7 linked regions of the Homo sapiens genome follow. The protein of the gene in region 6 purifies or fractionates together with the protein of the main gene of each other region. This does not show direct contact. Each region holds a gene or a part of one and is shown on either strand. Other genes may lie near its edges.

Region 1 (2,228 bases), on a different chromosome or scaffold from region 6:
AAATCAGATGTTTTCAATAAAATGAAAAAAATCTAATAGAATACTTTTCAAAGCACATAGAAATGCTGAATGGATATATGTATACTATATATGTTAAAATTTTGCCAGAAGTATTTAGAGTAATCTAAATTTAAGACTTACATATAAAAACTATTTTAACATCTCCAAGAGGAAAATGGAATTACAAATAATAAGTGTAGCAATATGGATAAAGACAAATTTAAAAAAAAAAAAAAATCCATTTTCTTTTTACTATTCCTGTTACATGTGTCATGAGTCCTCTTAACTTCTCTTAGGATAAGAGTCCATTTCTTTCATCCACTCAGTCACTCATTCATCAGTCATTTACCGAGAATTTTTTATATAACTGATAAGCTAGTGATACAGTGAAGAAAACTAAAATCCCTGTCTTCATGGAATTTACATTCTGGGGTAGAGACAGTCAATTAACAAATATATATGTTTCTTTGTCTTTTCAAATAATCTAACCACATATATAAACTCTTCTAAAATGACACTTTTTCAATCTTGCCATACTCAATTCCATTCTGGTATTAACTGATAAAAATTTTAAAATACTAAAAAATGCTTAAAATAACTATTATTTTTCAGTTTACAAAGGTGGAATAACATTTCGTTTTGTGAGGTACAGCACTGAGTAGCTAGATTAGGATTCGGGTGTTCAGGGTTTTGGTCCCTACAGTAGCAGTGACTAGTGAGATAGCCCTGAGTAAGTCAGAACCCTTCTGTACCTTCATTTTCCCATGTGGAAGGTTTCTAGAGATTATCCAGGTGCCTTCTTACCACTGTCACCACTTTCCATGTGCCCTTGACCCTCCCATGTCAGAGTCAGGAAAGAGCCTTTGAAACAAGGCATCTAAATAAAACAGTGCTGTTCTAAGACTGTATTCTTTGTATTTTAAATGAAGTTAAAGATATTAATAGCAGCAACTAAGCAGACCATATACTGCCCTCCCCTTTATACTTCAAGGTAGAGTATGATAACAAGGTCAGAAAAAAAAATTATTTTTTAATACTTCCTATACAAGACAACCAGTCACTTTCTGTTCTCTTACATCTTTCACATATAGCCTTTGCCAAATTCTGTCATTCTATCTACCAAATATTCCATTTTTTCTCCTGATTATTTATTTGGAGACAGGGTCTGGCTGTGTCGCCTAGGCTACTGTCTCGGCTCACTGCGACCTCGACCTCCCAGGCTGAAGCAATCCTCCCTCCTCCCACCTCAGTCCCTGGAGTGGCTGGGAGTACAGGCGCATGCCACCATGGCCAGCTAACTTTTGTATTTTTTTTTGTAGAGACGAAGTTTTGTCATGTTGCCCAGGCTCCTCCTCATCATTTCTACTGCCACTACATCCCTTTGTATATGCTTCCCCATCATCTCTTACCTGGACCATCAGAGAATTCTTTGGGTCTATTTGTTTTGTTTCTTTTTTACTTTTTGCTAAAAAGACATACCAGTTTATGCCACTCTTCAAAAACTTTTGCTGCTTTCGAGTTGCTATGGGTGGGGAGGGGGCTGTGGTGGGGAAAGGAAGCTTATGCTCTTTGCTGTCAACTTGTTTCATGCTCTAATCCAAGTGAGCAATCCAATTTTGCCTAGCAATCTTAGCCGTGTTCCTCTAATGAATACTTGCCTATTCTCTAACAATTCTCCCAATTCCTTCTTTCTCTCAAAAGTTTTTCCTTTCTTCACTCTTAGCCAGTGACTTCTCCTTATACTTTGAGAAAACAGAAATCAGTGGGTGGTAATTACTTTCCTTTCACAAAATTTGAAATCTATTTTAATTCTCCCTTTGACTCAAAAATCTCTCTCTCAATACACACACACACGCGCGCGCATGTGTGTATACATATGGATCTATCACTTTTATTGAAGGCAGAGGTCTTCAAATTTTGGTCACAGGACTCCTTTTCACTCTTAAAAATACTGTCAACCTTGGCTGGGAGCAGTGGCTCATGCCTATAATCCCAGCACTTTCAGAGGCCAAGGCAGGACAGCTTGAGCCCAGAGTTTAAGACCCACCTGGGACAACACAGCAAAACTTTGTCCCTACAAAAAATTAAAAAATTAGCCAGGCATAGTGGCGTGCACTGGTGGTCCCAGCTACTGAGGAGGCTATGGCAGGAGGATTGCTTGAACCCAGGAGGTTGAGGCTGCAGTGAGTTGTGTCTGTGCCACTGCACTCTAACATAGGTAACACAGC
Region 2 (3,000 bases), on a different chromosome or scaffold from region 6:
TTCATCCACTGCCAATGAAGTCAAATTTATAACAGCCACCTTGACAGTCGAAGCTAGGCCAAGTTAAAATAATTAATTCCAGAGAACTTCAAAGTGCATTAATCAGTTAATAATGGAGCAATCTAAACTTAAATAGTCGTGAGAAAAAAAGGAAACCCTGTTAAAAATTTTAGGGGTGAAAATATTGCAGATGAGGGTTATCAATCCAGTTCATGACAATGTAAAGAATGGAAATGACTACTCCAACATATGTCAGAGAAATGATAACTTTGAAGACTTTTAATTCACAGAGAATATATTCCTGTGGTTACTGGATGTTATCTTCCTTTCTTTTTAGCCAGTACCACAGCTCTCCCTCTCAAATGAAAATCTGATGTCAAAAGCTGTTTCACTGACCTCTATTTGGACTAGAAAGCACTCTAGTCTTTCTAGTCTTAAACTCCTTAACAATAATTAAATATAACTGAAGTTGTTGGATTATGATAAAACTATAAAGCATCAATTATATAGCGGAACATATAAAAATCACCAGAGACATCTTTAGATGAATTCAATTAAATTAATTCTAATTCTAGGCTAAGTTTTTTTTCCTTTTATTTATTTATCCCCCACCACGCTGCCCAAAAAAAAGACAGGGTCTCCCTATGTTGCCCAGGCTGGTCTTTAACTCCTGGGCTAAAGGGATCCTCCTGCCTCGGCCTCCCAGAGTGCTAGGATTACAGGTATGAGCCACCATGCCCGGCCCTAGGTTAACTTCTTAAAACAATGAAGGAATCACAGTGTTAACATTGTTTGTAAAGTGTAGTATTTGTCAGGCAACTGAAACAATCAGACTTCCAAATGAAGTCATTTGCAGGCTGTGACCAACTTTTCCCTGAATTCAAATTGACAAAACTACTTTGTAGAGATGCAAGAGTCTTGCCTCACTTCCAGGAATGATGTATGGATTCATGCGCCAGAAAGGAAAAACAATAGTCAAGTCAGACTAAAATGAGAGGGAGAACACAAGCCCGAATTTTGCTCACATCCCCAGAAGCAGGAGTAAGCTTGCACTTTTAACAAATGCCTCTTACCAAGAGGCTTAATAGGAAAATCTTGTATATTGCAGTTACCAAAGGACTTCCCTGCATGTCTGCAGAATGTCTAAAAGAAAAAAACACTACTCCCAAGTGAGACTTTTGACACACATAAAATATTGTTGTTAAAGGAATAAACTAGTGGAATAAGACAAGGCAAATTTCATTGTTGTGTTAAAATCTCATGTTAAGCAAGGTTCTGACTAGTCATTTGCAGACCTGATTTCTGGAAACGCTGAGTAGAAATCACTGGGAGATAAATCTAAATGAGAACATTAATTTACTTACACTCAGATAACTCTCTAAAGAGCCATTGTCCAATTTTACAAGATGTGCAACAGGCAGAGAAGGACAAACATTGCAAATAAGTTCTTGCCCATTCATGGTGCAAGTTCTCAGAAGTTACTCTTGTCCAAATCCTTCTGTTTCTTCTATGGCAAACAACAGCTTTTCCTTCAGTTGCTCATAGCTCTTGTATGGTGGCAGGTCCAGGCGATTAAAACTAAAAGCAAGAATTGTTAGTTTGAGAAAAGGAAATATGCAAAGAATCAAATGAGTAGTGTAGTATACTACTTTATACACTACTATAGAAGCACAAAAATATACTACTGTGCTTCAAAGGATACCATCAAGAAAGTGAAATAACCCAAAAATGGGAAAAAATATTTGTAAATCATATATCTGATAAAGGACTGGTATCCAAAATATATAAAAAACTTAAAACTCAACAATATTTAAAAATGAACAAAGGATAGAGATTTCTCCAAAGACATACAAATGACCAATAAGCACATTAAAAAAATGCTCAACATCCTTTACCATGCAAATAAAAACCACAATGAGATACCACTTCACACCTGTTGGGATGGCTATTATTTAAAACACCAAAACAACAACAACAACAACCAAAAAAAAAAAAAAAAAAAAAAAAAACAGAAGAAAACAAGAGTTGAAAAGGATGTGAGGATGTGGAGAAATTGGAGCCCCTCTGCACTACAGGTAGGAATATAACGCAGTGTAGTCACTATGGAAAACAGTATGGCGAGATTCCCCCAAAAAATTAAAAATAGAATTACTACATGATCAAGGAATTCCACCTCTGGGTATATACCCAAAACAACTGAAAGCAGGGCCATGGACAGATATATCTATATTCTACCACAGTATACCTATGTTTATAGCAGCATAAACAGCCAAAAGGTGGAAATAATCTAAGTGTCCATGGACAGATGAATGTATAAACAAAATGTAGTATATCCAGACTATCAAATATTATTCAGCATTAAAAAGGAGGAAATGCTGACACATGCTACAACATGGATGAAAATTAAAGATATTATTCTAAGTGAAATAAGCCAGCCAGGAAAGGACAAATAAGGTACGATTCTACACTTACGAAGTACTAAAGAATCATAGAAACAGTAGTAGAATGATGTTTGCCAGGACCTGGGGAAAGGGAGTCATGGGGAGTCATTGTTTAAAGCAGCAGTCTCCAGCCTTTTTGGCACCAGGCAATGGTTTTGTGGAAGACAATTTTTCCATGGACAGGAGTGGAGAGGGGGATGGTTTCAGGATGAAACTGTTCCACCTCAGGTTAGATTCTCGTAAGGAATGCACAATCTAGATCCCTCACATGCACAGTTCACAATAGTTATTGCTCCTATGAGAATCTAATGCCTCTGCTGATCTGACAAGTGGTGGAGCTCAGCAGGTAATGCTCATTCACCCTCCACTTACCTCCTGCTGTGCAGCCCAGTTCCTAACAGGCTGGGGACCAGGAGTTGGGGACCCCTGCTTTAATGGGTACCATTTCAATTTTACAAGATGAAAAATGTTTTAGGTCTGGCATGATGGCCTGTAATTCCAGCACTTTGGGAGGTCAAAGCAGGAGTATTGCTTGAGCTCAAGAGGTCGAGACCAGCCT
Region 3 (3,500 bases), on a different chromosome or scaffold from region 6:
AATTCAGATTGGATGTGTGCTATAGCTTCTTCTGGCTGTTTTCTCTTTACCTTTTCTCCCCATTTGTATTTCAATTTTTGTCTTTCTGTTCCATTATGAGAAGTTTCTTTACCTCTGTTGTCAAGTTCACCCATTCTCTTTATAATTGTATCTAACTGGATGTCAAATCTATAAATAAAGTTTCTAATTTAGTTATGTTACATTTTTATTTTTGAGATGTATTTTTTATGTTATCTGGATCTATTTCAATAGTTTCTTGTGTATTATACTTTCAATTCCCTCTTATTTTTAAAAACATATTAAACATAATTGCCTTATATTTTGTATCTGCTCACTTAAATATCTGCTGTCTTTATAGATCTGATACTGTACTTTATTTCCTTCAGTTAGCTTTCATTCATAGAGCTTATTTTCTCATATGTTTAGTGATTTTTGTTTGTGTCTGTGAGATCATGTTCTATCAATGCATTATAAGTGGGAATTCTTTGAGCTCTGAGTTTTAGAAATATCTCTCCAGAGTTTTGAGTTTGCTTCTGCTAGCCTGGGACCAATTTAAAGTAAAATTTCAGCATATGGCTTTTTAGGCCACACAGATAATGTAAATTCTGGCCCCAAACCTGTGTGAATGGGGACTTTTGGTTAGGAATTATTCAGGAGAAACTTTTTTACTCAAGTCACCTGAGCCAACATCAAAACACTGTTTACCTCTGTGAAGTTTACTTCTTCCCAGTTCACCCATTGAGTTTCTTCTGTTTTCCATTTGTGACTGTTGAAACCCCAAACTGTAGGCCACCAGGGATCAGCATATACCCTCCGAACAAATAATGCTTCAGTGCTCTCTTACCCCAGTGGGCTCACTTGGCATCGCTGTTGCATGTCTCCATGGAATTCCTTTACTTCCTTGCTAGCTTTGTCTTACATCGTGTGTGTGTGTGTGTGTGTGTGTGTGTGTGTGTGTGTGTGTGTATCCAGCATTTTTAGTTATGTTAAATTAGTAGAGGTTTCTGTCAGCATCTGGTAAGACACATTGCAAAAACAAAACAAAACAAAACCATAAACTAATTTAAATGTATTTTACTATAAGAATCAATAAACTCATATACAACTTATCTCATAAAACTTGCAGTATCTCTGTGCAAATTAACTTTTAAATATGCAGTTAGTTACATGCCCCCCAAAATCAAAACATATGTACAGTAAGAGAAAAAGATAATTTGGTAATATTGAATATTAGTTCATAAAAACTGAAAATAGGGACCAGTAATGTAAAACTGAAGAAATGTGTAAATGCTCCTTTTGATATCTCTGTGCAGGAAAGTGTTCAGGATTTAAAAAAGAGAATCATGGTACTCGACTGCCAATTACGAAAATCAGAAATGGCTCGAAAAACTTTTGAGGCATCCACTGAAAAGCTTCTTCATTTTGTAGAGGTAAGTTTTTCTGTTCTATTACATTCATCTTTAAAAAATATATAGGCAACTGGCATATAGATAAATGTTACTGTATTTGGTACCTAGTGAAACATTCTCTAGTCTCAAAGCAGCAATGCTGGCTTATGGTCAGATTTAGAACTGCATACATGATGAAAAGACTGGCTAACATTTTATAGATTGTTTAGAGAAATAATTGAGACAAGGTGATGGGATTCCAAGTATATACTATTTTAATGAATACTTTACCAAAAATCCTGATAATGCATAAACATTATTTGATAACTACTTACCTTATAAAGAAATGTTTTCATAGCTGTTATATTTCTGAGTAAAACTGCATGTTAGTTCAATTGTTTGCACCCCCGCTACATAATAGAAGCATCAGTTTAATCCGTGGACAGAGGAGGTTATAAATATTAATGAAGAAAAGATATTTTTTAAAAACTGTCAAACTGATATATCTCCTTCACCATCTTGTTTGTTGCTAGGCTATTCAAGAAGTATTTTCTGATAATTCTACTCCTTTATCAAATTTAAGGTAAGAAAATTTAAGTGCTTTTTGCAGAATATGGGTAGTGATTAAATTCTTCATCTGGTCATTGTGACTCAAATACTAAAAATCTCTTAAATAGTCCTAAGGTGCTACATAACTCCCATTGGATGCCATCATATGGAAATAGATGCAAGGACATATTGTTTTGTGTCCCATCTCTGTTAAAGAAATTCCTGGAGGTATTTAGTCAATCATTGTAACCTTGTAATCTAAAATTATGGTAGAAACCACCTATCCTGTCTTTATCAAAAATTCTATAAAGATGAGATTAACTTAAAATTCTGTAATTGTCTTGCGTATGAATCAAAGTTACTGGTCACAGGTTCACTACTAAAAGTGTCTCAACCCAGCAGGTTAGTTGTTCTGGCAAACAGAATTTTGGAAAACATATTCATGCAATCATTTTCTTTCGTTTTCATCTTTCAGTAGCTATAAATAAAAGAAATATATTTGGAGAATATACCTCGATTGTCTCATTATTCATAATATGTTTTGGATTTAAAGTTTCTTACTAGAAGCTGGAAACATACTAATCAAATTTATTTATTTCAAACCACAAGTTTATGGTCATTTTGATACATGATGAAAGACATTTACAAAAGAAAGATTCTTGTTTATGCATTTCCAAAGTAATTTTTTTCTGCTCTCATAATAGCTGCCACTAGTCCTAGATACATCTTCTACTTCTAGCAATATACGCTTGCAGAAACAGGAAGACTCAATGAGGTTGGGTGTGATGGTGCATACCTGTAATCCCAGTATTTTGGGAGGCTGAGGCAGGGGGATCACTTGAGCCCAGGAGTTTGAGACAAGGAACATAGTGGCACACAGTGGGACCCTATCTCTACAAAAAAAAAAAAAAAAAGAAATAGCCAGATGGGATGGTGCATTCCTATATTCCCAGCTACTTGGGAGGTTGAGGCAGGAGGATTGCTGGAGCCCAGGAGCTCTAGGAGATTGAGGCTGCAATGAGCTGTGATCATACCACTGCCCTCCAGCCTGGATAACATAGTGATGCCCTGTCTCAAAAAGTAAATAAATACTCTACCCTTTACTGTGAAAACAGCAGCTTAATAAGTGAAGATATTTTTGGTGTCCACATAGCATTTTTTAATTTAGAAGAATATTTATAATTCACTTCTAAACTCAAGTAATGTTTTACTTCTTATGATGAAGGAACCTGACATAACTTCTTACTCTCCTTGCTGCTTATGATACAAGAAAACTCTGTGAATTTCATGATTATTACTCTCAGTAAGGATCTTAAAATAATCAGTAATCACATTTATTTCTTTATGGGCTAAGTGTGTCACCCACCCTCAGCTTTCCAAGGTCTTAGTTTTACCTTGACTAATAATTCAAAAGTTTTGTTTTAAAAATTAAGGTTAAAATGACTATTTAAAAGCCAGAGCCTGCCCTTGCCTTAAACTGCTTCATGGAAAAAAAGACAACTTTAAATAGCTACATCACGCAACATTTCATGGTGTCTTAGTAAATTAAACACTAGTAAAAAC
Region 4 (3,500 bases), on a different chromosome or scaffold from region 6:
TCATTTTATGCAGTTGCCCACTGCTTTTTGGTTGTTTTCAGAAAAGCAAAGGAGAAATAATGACTTATTTTGCAAACTTTTTTTTTTTTTAACTTTTTTAGAGACAAAGTGTTGCTCTGTAGCCCAGGCTGGAATCCAGCAGTACAGTCATAGCTCACTGAGCCTTGACCTCCTGGGCTCCAAGCATGGTTGAGGAATAGCTGGGACCACAGGCACACACCACCATGCCCGGCTAATTTTAAGATATTTTAAATTTTTTTGTAGAGATGGCAGTCTCACTGTGTTGCCCAGGCTGGTCTTGAACTCCTGGGCTCAAGCGATCCTCTTGCCTTGGCTTCCCAAAGGGCTGGGATTATAGTCATGAGCCACTACACCTGGCCCACTTGCTCACTTCTAAAATAAGGTTTTAAATTTTTCATTAAGAAGTTGTATACTAAGCACATCATGAATGTATAACACAGCTGTTACGCATGTGGACACCTGTGTAGCCTTCACCTAGAGGGAGGTAGAGGATGCATTCAGCCTTCCAGGTTTCCTCAGGAGACCTGTCTCCCACAGCACCGTGTCTGATTTCTGTCTGCCAAGACTGTTCTTGAGCTTTATATATGTGGAGTCACACGCGTGGTCTTTTGTGTCTGGCTTCTTTTGCTCACCATCACCATCAGGTCAGCAAGGTTGACCGTGCTGTTGCATAAAGCAGTTGTTCATTTATTTTGAGAAAGTCTCACTGTTGCCCAGGCTGGAGTGCGTTGACATGTTCTCGGCTCACTGTAGCCTCTGCCTCCCGGGCTTAAGCAATCCTCCTGCCACAGCCTCCCAAGTAGCAGGGATGACACGCATGTGCCACCACGCCTAGCTAATTTTTTGTTATTTTATTTATTTATTTTTTTAGAGCTGGGGTTTTGCCATGTCACCCACGATGGTCTTGAACTCCTGGACTCAAGCGATCCACCGACTTTAGCCTCTCAAAGCACTGGGGTTACAGGATTTTGCCACTGCACCCGATTTTATATATTTATTTAATTATTGTTTCTTATTTATTTATTTATGAGACGGAGTCTCGCTGTGTTGCCCAGGCTGGAGTGCAGTGGCACCACCTCGGCTCACTGCAACTTCTGCCTCCCAGGTTCAAGCAATTCTCCTGCCTTAGCCTCCCGAGTAGCTGGGATTACAGGTACTTGCCACCACGCCTGGCTAATTTTTGTATTTTTAGTAGAGATGGGGTTTCACCATATTGGCCAGGCTGGTCTCGAACTTCTGACCTCGTGATCCGCCCGCCTTGGCCTCCCAAAGTGCTGGGATTACAGGTGTGAGCCACCGCGCCCAGCCTGTTTTTTGTTTTTTCTTGAAATGGAGTTTCGCTCTTGTTGCCCAAGCTGGAGTGCAGTGGTGCTATCTTGGCTCACTGCAACCTCTGCCTCCCAAGATCAAGCGATTCTCCTGCCTCAGCCTCCTGAGTAGCTGGGATTACAGGCGCATGCCACAATGCCTGGCTAATTTTTTGTATTTTTAGTAGAGATGGTGTTTCACCATGTTGGCCAGGCTGGTCTCAAACTCCTGACCTTGTGATCTGCCCGCCTTGGCCTCTCAAAATGGTAAGATTATAGGTGGGAGCCACCATGCCCGGCCTTATTTATTTATTTTTAAATGGAGTCTCACTCTGTCTCCCAGGCTGGAGTACAGTGGCGTGCTCTTGGCTCACTATCACCTCTGCCTCCCTGATCCACGGGATCCTCCCACCTCAGCCTCCTGAGTAGCTGGGATTACAGGTGTGCACCGCCACACCTGGCCAGTTGTTTTGTGTTTTTAGTAGAAACAGGTTTCATCATGTTGGCCAGGCTGGTCTCGAACCCCTGACCTCGGGTGGTCCACCTGCCTCAGCCTCCCATAGTGCCGGGATTATAGGCGTGAGCCACCACACCTGGCCTCATTTCTCTTTTATTTCAGTGTATGTGGTAGTCCCGCTGTGTGAGCGTGCCATAGTTGATGTATGCATTTCACTGTGCGTGGGTATTCGCACTATTTCCTGCTTCACAATCTTTTTAGCTGCGATACCAAAGTCCAGAGAGCTCTGGAAACGAAAGTGTTTCATGATCCGTTCGGCACAAAGTCTGACCCAGACTGAAGTGAGGTCGTTCACATGGTGTCTGTTGGTCCCACAGTAGTGTGGCTGTTGGCACGACTCTGCCCAGCGCGTTCTCTTATGTGTTGTATGTGCGTTATTTTCCTGGTCTGAACTCAGGAAAATTCTGAATTCCAAAACACAAGGGCCCCAGGAGTTGTGGACCTGGGACTGCCTCTTGGCTTGGGGTGTGATCAGGCATAGCAATGGCTTACCTGCTTTCCTTTCTTTCGTGTAAATACCTTGAGGGCCGGTTAAAGACTAATCTCTGATTACACTGTAAATACTGTTAACACACCTTTGAAAGGCCTTGCCAGAGCTAGGTCCAGCTGCCTCAGAGGGTGAGGAGATATGAATGGCCCTGGCATCTTTCCTGGCAGATTTCTCCTTGGTTCAGACGGAGCTTAGCTGTGATAGCTGACTCTTCCCCTAGGAGCCCTGGGTGGGTTTCTGTGGCTCTGTGAAGGCCCTGGAATCCCCTGCAGAATCAAAGTTGTGCCTTTTTTTGAGGTCAGTGACCAAGACACCCCCTGCAGAGCCTTAAGGGGGCCATGACTCCTCAAGCCCAGGACTTGAGCCTGAGCTAGGGAGAGCCTCAGAGACCTTGGTCCCCCCGCCCCCACTATTAATTTCAACTTGTTGAAAGGGAGTTTGTTTTCGTATTATAAAATACAAACATACCAAAGGGTGCAGATTGAACGATAATGTTCCCTCCGCCCTGTCCTTTTGCTCCTGGTGGTGTGGAACCTGGGTGCCCCTCCCAAGAGAGCCCGGGCCTACACAGGCCCTTGCGTGGATCTCTTCCCTTCTTGCAGAGGTGATAAACTACTGCTCCAGGCTGTTAGTACCAGCGTGAGGTTTTACAGTCAGAAATACACATTTCAAACTAGTACTAAGACCCCCTTCATTGTGATTTAACTAATGTGGTTTTCTTGGCCATGTTACTTTAGATTTTAGTTGTAAAGAAATAGACAGGGCTCCAGGATGCCAGGCGATGCCCATGGCGGCTGTGGTGCCTGTAGCTGCCATTTCCTCTTTTATTTGGATTGAGATGGAGCTCCTACACTGTGCAGCCCCCTTCATATCGCACAGTTCAGTGGCCTTCGGCCCATTCACAGTGCTGGGCGACCACCTCTGTCCAGCTCCAGAACGTCTTCATTGCCCCAGAAGGAAAACCCATAGCCTTCAGGTGGTCCCTCTCCATCCCTCCCTCCACCCCTGGCAACCCACAATCCACTCCGTCTCTCTGGATTTGCCCATTCTGGATGATTCACGTCGATGGAACCGTAGGCTGTGTGGCGTTCTGTGCTGGCGTCTGTCGCTGAGCGCAGTACCTCCGCGGCTGGTCCCCGTCACAGCGTGGGTCTGTGTTCATTCC
Region 5 (3,500 bases), on a different chromosome or scaffold from region 6:
CAGCAGAGTAAATTGCCCCTTACCTGGGCCTAAATAGGAAGAGTGACCACCTTTGGATATTCAGGAGTTAACAAACCCAGGGTACCCAGTAATAACAAACACATAGCCCCAAACCAGTTGTTACTCAGATGACTCTGTATTTATTCCATTTATTAGTTTGTGACATGAAAATAAAAAGATAAATCACTGGCTGATAGTGTTTTAATGTTTCTTTCTAGAAAACACTGGCATTATGAGACAACCTATATCCCAACAAGCCCCGACTTAAAAATTGTTCTTTGATAAGCCATGATTTAGTGTTTGGAGTTCCTCAGAAGTCCATTAAGTAAAGCATTATGTGCAGAAAAAAATAGGATGAGCTTCAGTATTTTGTCTGTTTAGAAAGAGCCTTTGGTCAATATTATGAAGTAGGTCTATTATGACCATAACAAAGACATCCCGAACCCAAAACTTAATTGAAATCAGGGGAGGCCTAAAGACAATCAGACAGTGGCACAAAAATTACATTTATTATGCTTTGCATTTACTTTCAGGGCTTTTCTTTTTTTTGCTTTTCACCCACTTAACAAATATTTTTTGAGCCCCTGCCATGTGAAAGGTGCTGCAGTTGATACAAAGCATGTCATACATCGCCCCTGCCTTTAAATAGCTTATGTCCAGCTGGGGGCATAAGGTAGGACCACTAAATAATGGTTCAAGACAGCCAGTGACACTTCAATGCGAAGGTGAGATGGTTAGAGTTACAGGCAGACAGCCAACAGAAGCCTGGGATTTTACAGGCCAAGGAATCGAAGGAGGATTGGAAATGAGAGTGCATGTGTGCCCAGGGGGGAAAGGTGCAAATATCTCAGGGCAGGGAGGCAGCCAGTACAGGTGGAGCCAAACGTTTCAGAAACCACGGATGCAGGGGGCTTTATGGGGAGAGCATGTGCTGAGGGCAGAGGGAAGCTGCGGTGCAAAGTGGATTCACTTTTGTTGTGGGTGCACTCTGGGGTTCTGCCATGGCTCAGGCTGCATGGCCACTGCTTCCATGGCCATCACCCCAACACTCTGCTCCTAACCACGGTGGGACACCTCCGGAGGAGGCAGCACTGCAGAAGTGGCCCCCAGGGGCTGTGGAAGCAGAAGGCTTTGGAGGAGGAGCTGCTCTGCGCCGCCACCAGGGGGCAGTCTATCATCCCATCAAAGAGGGTGGGAGGAAAAACGCCTCCATGGCTTGCTGTTGTTGCCTCTTGGAGAGGTGTAAGCTCAATCACACTCGATCTGTGCTCTCCATTTCCCTGGGTGGCAAGAACACTGGGAAAATCATAGCTAACCTTCTTTTGGTCGGGGACACCCTTTTCCACCTCAGGTACTTGCTTTCAGCTGGGGATGTGCCTTTCCACAGTGGGAGGCTTGGAGGGCGGGACAGTGCTAAGAAGATAGGAGCCGGCAGCTTGGACTTAGGAGAGAACTCAGCATGGGAGGGCAGAGGGGCTCTGCGGCTGCAGCGAGCTGGAGAGAGAAGTTCTGTTCCTTACGTACGAACTGGTATCTATCTAATGCATGCTGGGCGGCAGTGCACTGGGTGCTGGGGTAGAAAGAATCCCACACAGCCCCTGTTTTTGTTCTCCAGCCCACCCCCTGGCAGAGGTGCTAACAGCTGTGAGAGCAGCCAGTAGGGCAGAGAAGGAGAGAAATGAAAAGCATGGCCCACAATAAACTACAGAATCAGTCCTAGGAACCCTGAGAGAAGCCTGTTGTGTGGGGATGGCCCTCGGACTTTGGAGAGACACAGGTGTGAGTCTGAATTCCGGCCGGATCTCTGCCACCCACAAGCCTTGGGTTTACATAATTATTGATCCTTTTGAAGCCTTGTTTCCTCGTGCAGGAATGGTGATAATGCTGTCACAGAAGCATTATGAGGACTAAATGAAATAAAAAAGATCACAAGGAATACCATTTTCTTTTGTGTTCCTACTACGTGCCAGTGGCCGTGCTAGGTTCTTTATGTACACTTTTTGTCTGTTTAATCCTCACAACCATGAATGGCAAGTGCAAACACTGCATGTGACACGTGACTGCAGCTCCATAAACTCAGCTCCCTTTGGCTGGAGAGTTAGTGGCAGGTCTCTGTGCACCCTGCTGCCTACACACCATAAGGTTCCAATTAATAATAAATGTCTTTATGATAATTATCCGTGATTCCAAAGTCCTTCTGATAATCCAAAGAACTTTAAATTAAGACACTTGGAAATTCTGCATATTTTTTTCTCATTCTTTTGCTATCTTTGTAAGGGTTACATTGTATATAAGTATATGTTTATCAATAGAAAGCTTTATTTAGTGTTTTCAAATGTAGTCCCTGTTACCTAAAGAAATACATATTATACATAGGGCTGTTATCTGGTCATAGTCCACTTTAATGAGAACCATGAGTGGACATGAATGTAAAAGAGACAAAACAGAAACCCATTCTCATATACAATTGAATTCTGTGAGCATCTTAATTGCTGTCATTCCATGAGAATCATGCTTTCAAATTCTTATCCATGTTATCTAGCATCTGCAGATACTAGTGTCTTCTAAGTAAGAAACTCTACAGTAGTTACCCAGTATTCCATCTTGTTATGGAAATGTCACATATGATTAAATCTTACATACCAGACTGGCATATGAATGAAATAATATTCTTCATAGTAAAACAAACTTTAGTTTCTACCTGTACAGAAAAATGCCCCATTGAGGGCTTCTTTTAATACTGTTTAATATTTTTAATAGGATTTTTTACTCTCTTGGGTAAGTAACCAGTGTTACACATCAAGTGAAAAGGGATGGGTTTGTTTAATATAACAAACACTTATGTTGGCTCAGGCAACATAATTAGTAGGAAAAACAAAGGAAATATAATGATACCATTTTGACTCTCTGTGAGACTATACTATTGCAGCCTACAGGCCACCTTTGGGCACGACCTGTTGGTGGGAACCTAGTGATAGTAAGATCTCAGTCACAGGTTTACCCTATGGCGTGTCTCTCCAGGAGTCTTTGAACGGGCATCGACAGCTTTCCCAAGAAGCGCTTGATGATGGGGCGGCTCTTGGCAAACTTGTCCTTCACCTCAATTTCCAGCACGTCAGTGGGCAAGGACACAAAACTGAATTGCTGCAATGAAAGAATATGTCACATCAATTAACTGAGAGGTTGGAGGGCTGGTCAATTCCCAGTCCATCTGCCTTGATGCTGTCACTGTAAAACATCCTAGCTATAATATACCTATATATAAAGGGTCTCAGAAATGTTGTGAACCTGTTTATTCAGTAAATGAGGGGCAGCGACAAGATGCTTCTGCAGGGCTTAAAAATAGGCTTATTCTTTGAGATTCAAGCAGTAAAATCAGCATGCTTTAAAGAGAAAGAATGCCACCAAAGCCTCATCATACTTGATTGAAGGTATTATCATACTTTAAGAAAGAACAAGCACAAACTCACCTGTAATTAAGAAAATGTACTTTAAATAAA
Region 6 (3,500 bases):
TGTCATATTCAAACCCAATAGAAGGAAAGCTAAGTGTTTTAGGGGCACAATTTTTTAACATTTTTTTTGTAGAGATAGGGTCTTACTATGCTGCCCAGGCTGGTCTCAAACTCCAGCCTTGTGCCTGGCCTAGGGGTCAAGATTTATCTTCATAGCCAAAGTAGCAGAAAAACAAATGTTCAACCGAGCCAACCAACTGCCGACATTTCCTCAAGTCCTGCACACATTGTATCCAGAAGGCCTCCCGTCCCCACTAGGAAAGCAGGGACTGTGTTGCAGGAGCAAGCCAAACAGCAAGGTCAAATCAGACAGAAATCGGTCAGCTCTGCACACCTCAGCCAGTAACAAACACAAGGTGGATTTGTCAGGCACCCAAAGCCCTCTGGGTCAATGGCAAGCACCCTCACAGTGACATCAGAGCCACCACCTCACTGAGGAAAATGGAGAACCGCCAAGGACTGTGGCAGAGGCGTACTCCCCAAAAGACACTGAGGGACCCCACCGGCCAGACCACTGGAGGACTGCCACCCCATTAGCAGCCTTCAGCACACTCCATCTCCACTCCGCAGGCCTCATACCATCTCCAGCCTTTTGGAATCCATCTCCAAGGCCTCAGCACTGCCACAGGTGAGGGCAGGTGTGCACCTGGGACAGAGTGTGGTGCTGATGGCAGGCCAAGCAGAGCTGAGAAGGACCCAGTCTGCAGTCTCAACCCAGGGAGATGGGGCACAGCATCACCAGCTGAGCTTCTGCCGTCTGCACCTGCAGTACCTGGGCTCACGCACCTAGGCACCTCCTTGAAAGCTTTGGTACAAAACACAGAACTGTGCTGATACGTTCAGGCTCTGTGTCCCCACTCAAATCTCACCTTGAATTGTAATCCAAATTGTAATCCCCATGTGTTGGGGGAGGGACCTCATGGGAAGGGAATAGATCATGAGAGTGGTTCCCCCGTGCTGTTCTCATGATAGTGAGTTCTCACGAGATCTGATGGTTTTATAAAGGGCTTTTCCTTCCTTCACTCTGCACTTCACTCTCTTGCTGCCAAGTGAAGTAGGACATGTTTGCTTCCACTTCCGCCATGACTGTAAGTGTCCCAAGGCCTCCTCAGCCACGTGGAACTGTGAGTCAATTAAACCTCTTTCCTTTATAAATTACCCAGTCTCGGGTATTTCTTCATAGCAGCATGAGAACGGACTAATACATGGGCCCACCAGGTCCTGTGGGACCCACTCACTGTCCACCAGGCAATGCCAGGTGGAAGTGCACCCCCAGCATACACCAAAGAGCAGGTGAGCACCTTGCACAGTACATGAGGGTCTCCCCACCTGATGTGCTCAGGTGCCTGTGAACAAAACCACACCGATCATGACCAGCCCTAGAGAAAGTGGTGCCATCTTGCTCCCTCCAGCACGGTAAGCACCCTCCATTCCAGCTGCTTCCAACCCCTCAATGAAAGACTGTCTTTAATTAGTTCATCACCACCTAGTAAAGTGATTTTTTCATCTCTCTCAAGCTTTAGGAGCAACAGCTTAAGAGGTCAGGCACTGTTCATAGTTGTTGCAACTCTGGAAGGGCTGATGCCTTGGAGGAAAGCAGAAAACTTTAGCACATTTGCAGAGGATGTGGAGGTCCTCCACAGACGACACAAGAATGGAGTATGGAGGATCATGAATTTTCTGTCTGCCCATCATGAATTTTCTGTCTGCATCCTTAGGGGCAAGACTAGCAAAGAGTGTGAGGTCCAATAGGGATCATTTGAAATGAAGAGAAGCGACTGAACAAGGTATGGTGGGGCTATCCAGACAGCCAGGTGCTGACTCCACCCCCTCCTGGCCCTCATTCTCCATTGCAAGTTCAAGGCTACCCCTAAAGAGGGAGGATGAGGAGGCTGGGGGAAGACCAAGAGCAGTCTATGCCCATCGTATCCTATAATTTGTTTAAAAGACATGTTATTAGAATGTTTATTGCCCTGAACCTACCTGAGTAGAATTTAATTCTATTTTATTTTATTTTATTTTATTTTATTTTATTTTATTTTATTTTATTCAAATTTTAAAAAGCACAAAGGTCTTACCCCACCTACTGAGATCATCCACTGACATTATGATGTTTGGCCTTAACAAAATTCTAGCAAACAGCAAAACTCTTTTCATCGATAAGCCAGATGACACAAAGTCAGATTTTCAAAATAAAAAGATAGGAAAGAAAATTTAAACGTCATGTGCCCATATCATTTACTGCCAAATTTGCAAAGGTTTTTTAAATAATATTCGGCATTGACAAGGGTGCAGTCACCCTCTTCTCTGTGGGAATCTAAGTTGCCTCTCCCATTCTGAAAGCCCCATCTGGCAATATTTTTGGAGGACCCTTAAAAGTCTTATAGCCCCCAATTTCCCTTTTAAGAATCTACCCAAACAATGTTTTAAAAAATGTTCAGGCCAAGCACAGGGGCTCACGCCTGTAATCCTAGCACCCTGGGAGGCCAAGGCGGGAAGATTGCTTCAGCCCGGGAATTTGAGACCAGCCTGGGCAACATGGCGAAACCCGGTCTCTACAAAAAAAAAAAAAAAAAAAAAGCAAGGCATGGCAGCATCTGTAGTCCCAGATACTTAGGAGGCTGAGGGCAGAGGATGCCACAAGCCTGAGAAATGGCGGTTGCAATGAGCCGAGATCACACCACTGCACTCCAGCCTGGACAACAGAGCAAGACCCCATCTCCATTTTTTTAAATTATCAAGTTATGTAATAAATTTCTAAAAAAAAAGTTTAAAGACGTTCAATGCAATCATATTTATAACAGAGAAAACCGGTAACAGCCTCAATGTCCTAAAACTGGTTTTAAAAAAATAACAATATAACCATAGAATAGAATATTATACAATCTAGAAGTAGGATTTTTGGAGAATATTTAAATCACATGAAAAATATTCATGAAAGAATGCTAAGCTTCCTAAAAAGTACATAAATGACTTTATAATTAATTAATAAACCTGGAATCTACTAACCTACTAATCATCTCTAGCAGTGAGATCATAGATAATTTCAGTGATTTTTATTTTCTTCCTTCTTTCCCTATTTCCTAATTCTCTTCAGTACACATGTATCAGGAAAAGAAAACGTTATTTGTCCCACAGATGCTGCTAGGAGCAGCTACCCCAAGACAGGCCTTGCACCTTGGGTCATGACAATGCGTGGCTACTGAGAGCTGTTGACAGAGTGGACAGGGCCCAGACCAGGACAGTCTCTCTAGAGGTCTTCACCTCCTCAACCGTAACTTAATCAGCCCCATGCCGGGCTAGCCCCATGCCACAAAGGCTCAGAAATGCCCTGCAACATGTGGGACACCTGGTAGTATCTACATAGGGGTCAGCATCCATCCCAGCTGCTGGGGGTGGCTCAAGAGCTGTGAGGGACACCCTTTCCTGCCTGATACCGTGGACCAGTTTGCAAAGAGCTGACTGTCCTGCTAGGCCCATGATATGTGCATCTCTTGGGTA
Region 7 (3,500 bases), on a different chromosome or scaffold from region 6:
GTAGAGCCTGCCGGGGAGAAGACCCCATCTTCTCACCACAAGGAAACCCCACAGCAGCCAGTACAGATGAAATCCCACAGGGAGGGAGGAAATTCTCATTTCTTCTCCCCACCCACTACTTCAGTGAATCACTGACTTCCACCTATTCAAAACTCCAATCTGCCAATTTAGCCCTTCTTCTGGAGCCTCTTACATGTTTCATTTCTTTTTTTTTTAGACAGAGTCTCACTCTGTTGCCCAACCTCTGCCTCCCGGATTTAAGCGATTCTCCTGCCTCAGCCTCCCGAGTAGCTGGGACTACAGGCATCCGCCACCACGCCCAGCTGATTTTTGTATTTTTAGTAGAGATGGGGTTTCACCATATTGGCCATGGTGGTCTCAAACTCCTGACCTTGTGATCGGCCCGCCTCGGCCTCCCAAAGTGCCAGGATTACAGGCATGAGCCACCACACCCAGCCATCTGTTTCATTTCTAGAACCAATGGGCCTGGGACTAGAATCATGGCTGGGTTTTATTTTCTTGATATTTTTCTATATTCACTAACGCTCTATAGTGAATACATTAATTTTTTTAATTGGAACAAAAAAGGGGAAGAGAGCCAGGCAGAGTGGCTCACACCTATAATGCCAACAGTTTGGGAGGCCAAGACAGAAGAATCGCTTGAAGCCAGGAGTTCACAATACCAGCCTGGGCAACATAGCAAGACCCCATCTCTACAAAATATGAACAAATTAGCCAGGTGTGGTGGTGCCTGCCTGCAATCTCAGCCCCTTGGGAGTCTGAGGTGGGAGGTTCACTTGAGTGCAGGAGATCAAGGCTGCAGTGAGCTGTGATTGCACCACCACACTCCAGCCTGGGGTGACAGAGCAAGACCCTGTCTCTAATTGGAAAAAAGAAAGAAAGAAAATGGGGAAAGAGAACAATAGAAATAAAAAGAACCAATGGCATCATCTGTCCAGACCTACCCTCTGAAGGGAGGCAGGCTGTAATTACCTGCATGTGTACCTACATCCACGTAGGTTGGCCTCAGACCTCTGAAATCCCTGGAAAGCCACTCCTTCCTTCCACTCAGTAGCATAGGATGAAAGGACTAACAAGTGGCAGCCCTGCCAGCAGCTTCCAGCCTTGGGGACCAGCTCTAGAGCCAGCATCCTGCCCGCCCCCGCCCGGGCTCCACGCTCAGCAACCCCAGCGCTGCCCCAGAAAGCAGGCTAGCACAGGGCTCCTACCTGAAACACTGACCTGGGCCCGTCCTGCCGGCTCGCCCTGACCGCTGGTTGGCATTGGCCTGGCTAATGGGATAGATCTGCAGAGCATCCATGCCAATCCTGGGGTTGAAGACCTAGGAGGGGACGGCAAAGAGCTGACGAAGGACAGAGTGAGGGGAAAGTGGAAGTAGGCCTGAGACAAAGGCAAGCCCTGGTTGCTACACATGGCAGAGGAAGAGCCAGGAGGCTCTAGAAATGTTCTCATGAACACCTGAAGAAGTCTTCCCCACAAACACCAGCTCTCTGAGCTCTACTGTTAAATTATCTACCTCATCGAGTATTACAAGGGTTAAACAAACCAAGCACAGTGAGTCAATGTGAGCCTCCCACCACCACCACCACTTCCACGCGCTCCCCACATCCCAGGGCCAGGAGCGAGGCCCTGGCTTCCCACCCCGCAGCTAAGTTAGCTTCTGGTGAACACCCAGGCCTTGCCTCCCATGTCTTCTCTTACCTTTAATTTGCAATAACCAGAATCGATAACAAACATGATGCCGTCAACAGTGAGAGACGTCTCGGCAATATTGGTGGCAACGATGCACTTCCGAACGCCATCTGGAGCCTAGAGCAGGACATACAGGAAGGGAAAAATGAGTCCCTCGAGACAGGAAAGGCTCCGCGAGGGGGAAAAGCCTACCTCCTAGCCCACCCCCTGCCAGGACAGTCACATCCCCTCTCGCTTCCTTTAGAGAACTCCAAGAGCCACTCCTGGACATTCCTGCTGACACACCTTCTGGAAGATTTTGGCCTGGAGGTCAGAAGGCAGCTGAGAGTAGATGGGCAGCACAGCCAGGGCAGGCGCGTTCTCCAGTTCCTCCAGATGCTCCACAATCTGGTCTGAGGTCACCTGAGAGCCCAGGGAGGAGCTGTGAGACACTGGAACCCTAACCTCTCATATGCAAGACACACCCGCTCATCACAGTCGTGACCAAGGCACGCACCTCAATGTCCTCTTGGCCAGGCATGAAGATAAGGATGTCTCCAGGGGCCCCCGACAGGTGCACCTGCAAGGACTGCTTCACTGCAGCCTCCACGTAATCCTCCTGTGGGGTCTGCAACAGCAGTGGGGACACAGTCAGAGGGAGGTACTAGAAGCGCAGGCCGGGCATCTCCTGGGAGCCCAGTGGCCCAGGCACTGCTCTGGAATGGAGCCATGGACTTTGAGGGCCACCACACCTCCACATGGGCCTGACTGCGAGGCCTCTACAAGAGGGCACAGTGCCTCCCTGGGCCCTGTACTTCAGCCTCAAAGAAATAATGAAACAAAACCTCACCCAGAGCAGAGTCCTTTGTCCCCGAGTCCCAGAGCTGCAGGCTGCCCCATTTGCCCCATGGTCCCCAGGAAATCTTCTCCAACCCAGTCCCCTACCCACCCTCCACCCTCCAGCCGGCTTCGCATCAGAGAAGTGCGTGGCATGGAAGGGTCAGTTCGTAACATGGTGGCCTCAATACCTTGCTGAAGAGGATGTCAACAGGGAAGGTACGGCCAGGGATGTGGAAGATGGGGACATTCCCAAAAAAGGCAGCAAACTTCTCCGCATCCATCGTGGCTGATGTGACGATGAGCTTCAGGTCTGAGCGCCGAGCCACTACCTGAGAGAAGAGGCGGCTCGGAGGCCCCCATGGTGGGGACCCTTGGCTCCTGTCCCCCAGTCCCATCAGCACCACCCCCGAGGAAACACAAGCCAAAGCTGACAAATGGGCCTATTCAATTCTTACCAATCATGAAGACTGAAGCAATGGAGCCACTGCCCAGAAAACCCCAAGCCACCCTCAGCAGAGCAAGAACAGCATGAACTACAACCCGAGTCTGAACTGCAACCAGAGGCCTCAGGAACCTCTGGCCTACCAGAGACCCCCTCAGCCCACCTGGAGCAACCCACTAGCTACTGGTGGTGCACTGGTCAACACCCCATGCGCAGAGAGACCAAACCACACAGCCCTCACCTCCCGGAGCAGCCCAAAGAGCACGTCAGTGTTGAGGGAGCGCTCGTGGGCCTCGTCCATGATGATGGCACTGTAGTGATCCAGGTCGGCTTCCCGGAGGGACTCTCGGAGCAGGATCCCGTCAGTCATGTATTTGATCAAGGTGTTCTCTGAAGTGCAGTCTTCAAAGCGGATGGCATAGCCCACCTGGAGGTCAGAGAGATGGCTCAGATGCCCTGGCCACCGGCTCACCACCAGCACACCCCGTACTGGGGTCCGAGTCTTAGCAGATCACACCCTTTAGCA

Evidence for each region.
Region 1: the proteins of LDLRAD4 (region 6) and WWP1 purify together in Homo sapiens (affinity purification with mass spectrometry; 4 studies listed by BioGRID and IntAct, with this or other methods). This does not show direct contact.
Region 2: the proteins of LDLRAD4 (region 6) and ITCH purify together in Homo sapiens (affinity purification with mass spectrometry; 4 studies listed by BioGRID and IntAct, with this or other methods). This does not show direct contact.
Region 3: the proteins of LDLRAD4 (region 6) and STXBP4 purify together in Homo sapiens (affinity purification with mass spectrometry; 3 studies listed by BioGRID and IntAct, with this or other methods). This does not show direct contact.
Region 4: the proteins of LDLRAD4 (region 6) and EPN1 purify together in Homo sapiens (affinity purification with mass spectrometry; 3 studies listed by BioGRID and IntAct, with this or other methods). This does not show direct contact.
Region 5: the proteins of LDLRAD4 (region 6) and HECW1 purify together in Homo sapiens (affinity purification with mass spectrometry; 4 studies listed by BioGRID and IntAct, with this or other methods). This does not show direct contact.
Region 7: the proteins of LDLRAD4 (region 6) and DHX38 purify together in Homo sapiens (affinity purification with mass spectrometry; 3 studies listed by BioGRID and IntAct, with this or other methods). This does not show direct contact.

Annotation. Positions count from the first base shown.
Region 1 is NC_000008.11:86,464,547-86,466,774, reverse strand, and holds part of WWP1 (NEDD4-like E3 ubiquitin-protein ligase WWP1), read right to left. Parts: intron 1-2,228. UniProt on the Homo sapiens protein: E3 ubiquitin-protein ligase which accepts ubiquitin from an E2 ubiquitin-conjugating enzyme in the form of a thioester and then directly transfers the ubiquitin to targeted substrates.
Region 2 is NC_000020.11:34,506,273-34,509,272, reverse strand, and holds part of ITCH (E3 ubiquitin-protein ligase Itchy homolog), read right to left. Parts: intron 1,579-3,000; coding exon 1,479-1,578; 3' UTR 1-1,478. UniProt on the Homo sapiens protein: Acts as an Acts as an E3 ubiquitin-protein ligase which accepts ubiquitin from an E2 ubiquitin-conjugating enzyme in the form of a thioester and then directly transfers the ubiquitin to targeted substrates.
Region 3 is NC_000017.11:55,076,765-55,080,264, forward strand, and holds part of STXBP4 (syntaxin-binding protein 4), read left to right. Parts: intron 1-1,313; coding exon 1,314-1,430; intron 1,431-1,921; coding exon 1,922-1,971; intron 1,972-3,500. UniProt on the Homo sapiens protein: Plays a role in the translocation of transport vesicles from the cytoplasm to the plasma membrane. Inhibits the translocation of SLC2A4 from intracellular vesicles to the plasma membrane by STX4A binding and preventing the interaction between STX4A and VAMP2.
Region 4 is NC_000019.10:55,681,726-55,685,225, forward strand, and holds part of EPN1 (epsin-1), read left to right. Parts: intron 1-3,500. UniProt on the Homo sapiens protein: Binds to membranes enriched in phosphatidylinositol 4,5-bisphosphate (PtdIns(4,5)P2). Modifies membrane curvature and facilitates the formation of clathrin-coated invaginations. Regulates receptor-mediated endocytosis.
Region 5 is NC_000007.14:43,437,647-43,441,146, reverse strand, and holds part of HECW1 (E3 ubiquitin-protein ligase HECW1), read right to left. Parts: intron 3,145-3,500; coding exon 3,002-3,144; intron 1-3,001. UniProt on the Homo sapiens protein: E3 ubiquitin-protein ligase that mediates ubiquitination and subsequent degradation of DVL1. Also targets the mutant SOD1 protein involved in familial amyotrophic lateral sclerosis (FALS).
Region 6 is NC_000018.10:13,225,260-13,228,759, reverse strand, and holds part of LDLRAD4 (low-density lipoprotein receptor class A domain-containing protein 4 isoform alpha 1), read right to left. Parts: intron 1-3,500. UniProt on the Homo sapiens protein: Functions as a negative regulator of TGF-beta signaling and thereby probably plays a role in cell proliferation, differentiation, apoptosis, motility, extracellular matrix production and immunosuppression.
Region 7 is NC_000016.10:72,103,847-72,107,346, reverse strand, and holds part of DHX38 (pre-mRNA-splicing factor ATP-dependent RNA helicase PRP16), read right to left. Parts: intron 3,402-3,500; coding exon 3,216-3,401; intron 2,862-3,215; coding exon 2,721-2,861; intron 2,321-2,720; coding exon 2,210-2,320; intron 2,116-2,209; coding exon 1,999-2,115; intron 1,831-1,998; coding exon 1,723-1,830; intron 1,343-1,722; coding exon 1,230-1,342; intron 8-1,229; coding exon 1-7. UniProt on the Homo sapiens protein: Probable ATP-binding RNA helicase. Involved in pre-mRNA splicing as component of the spliceosome.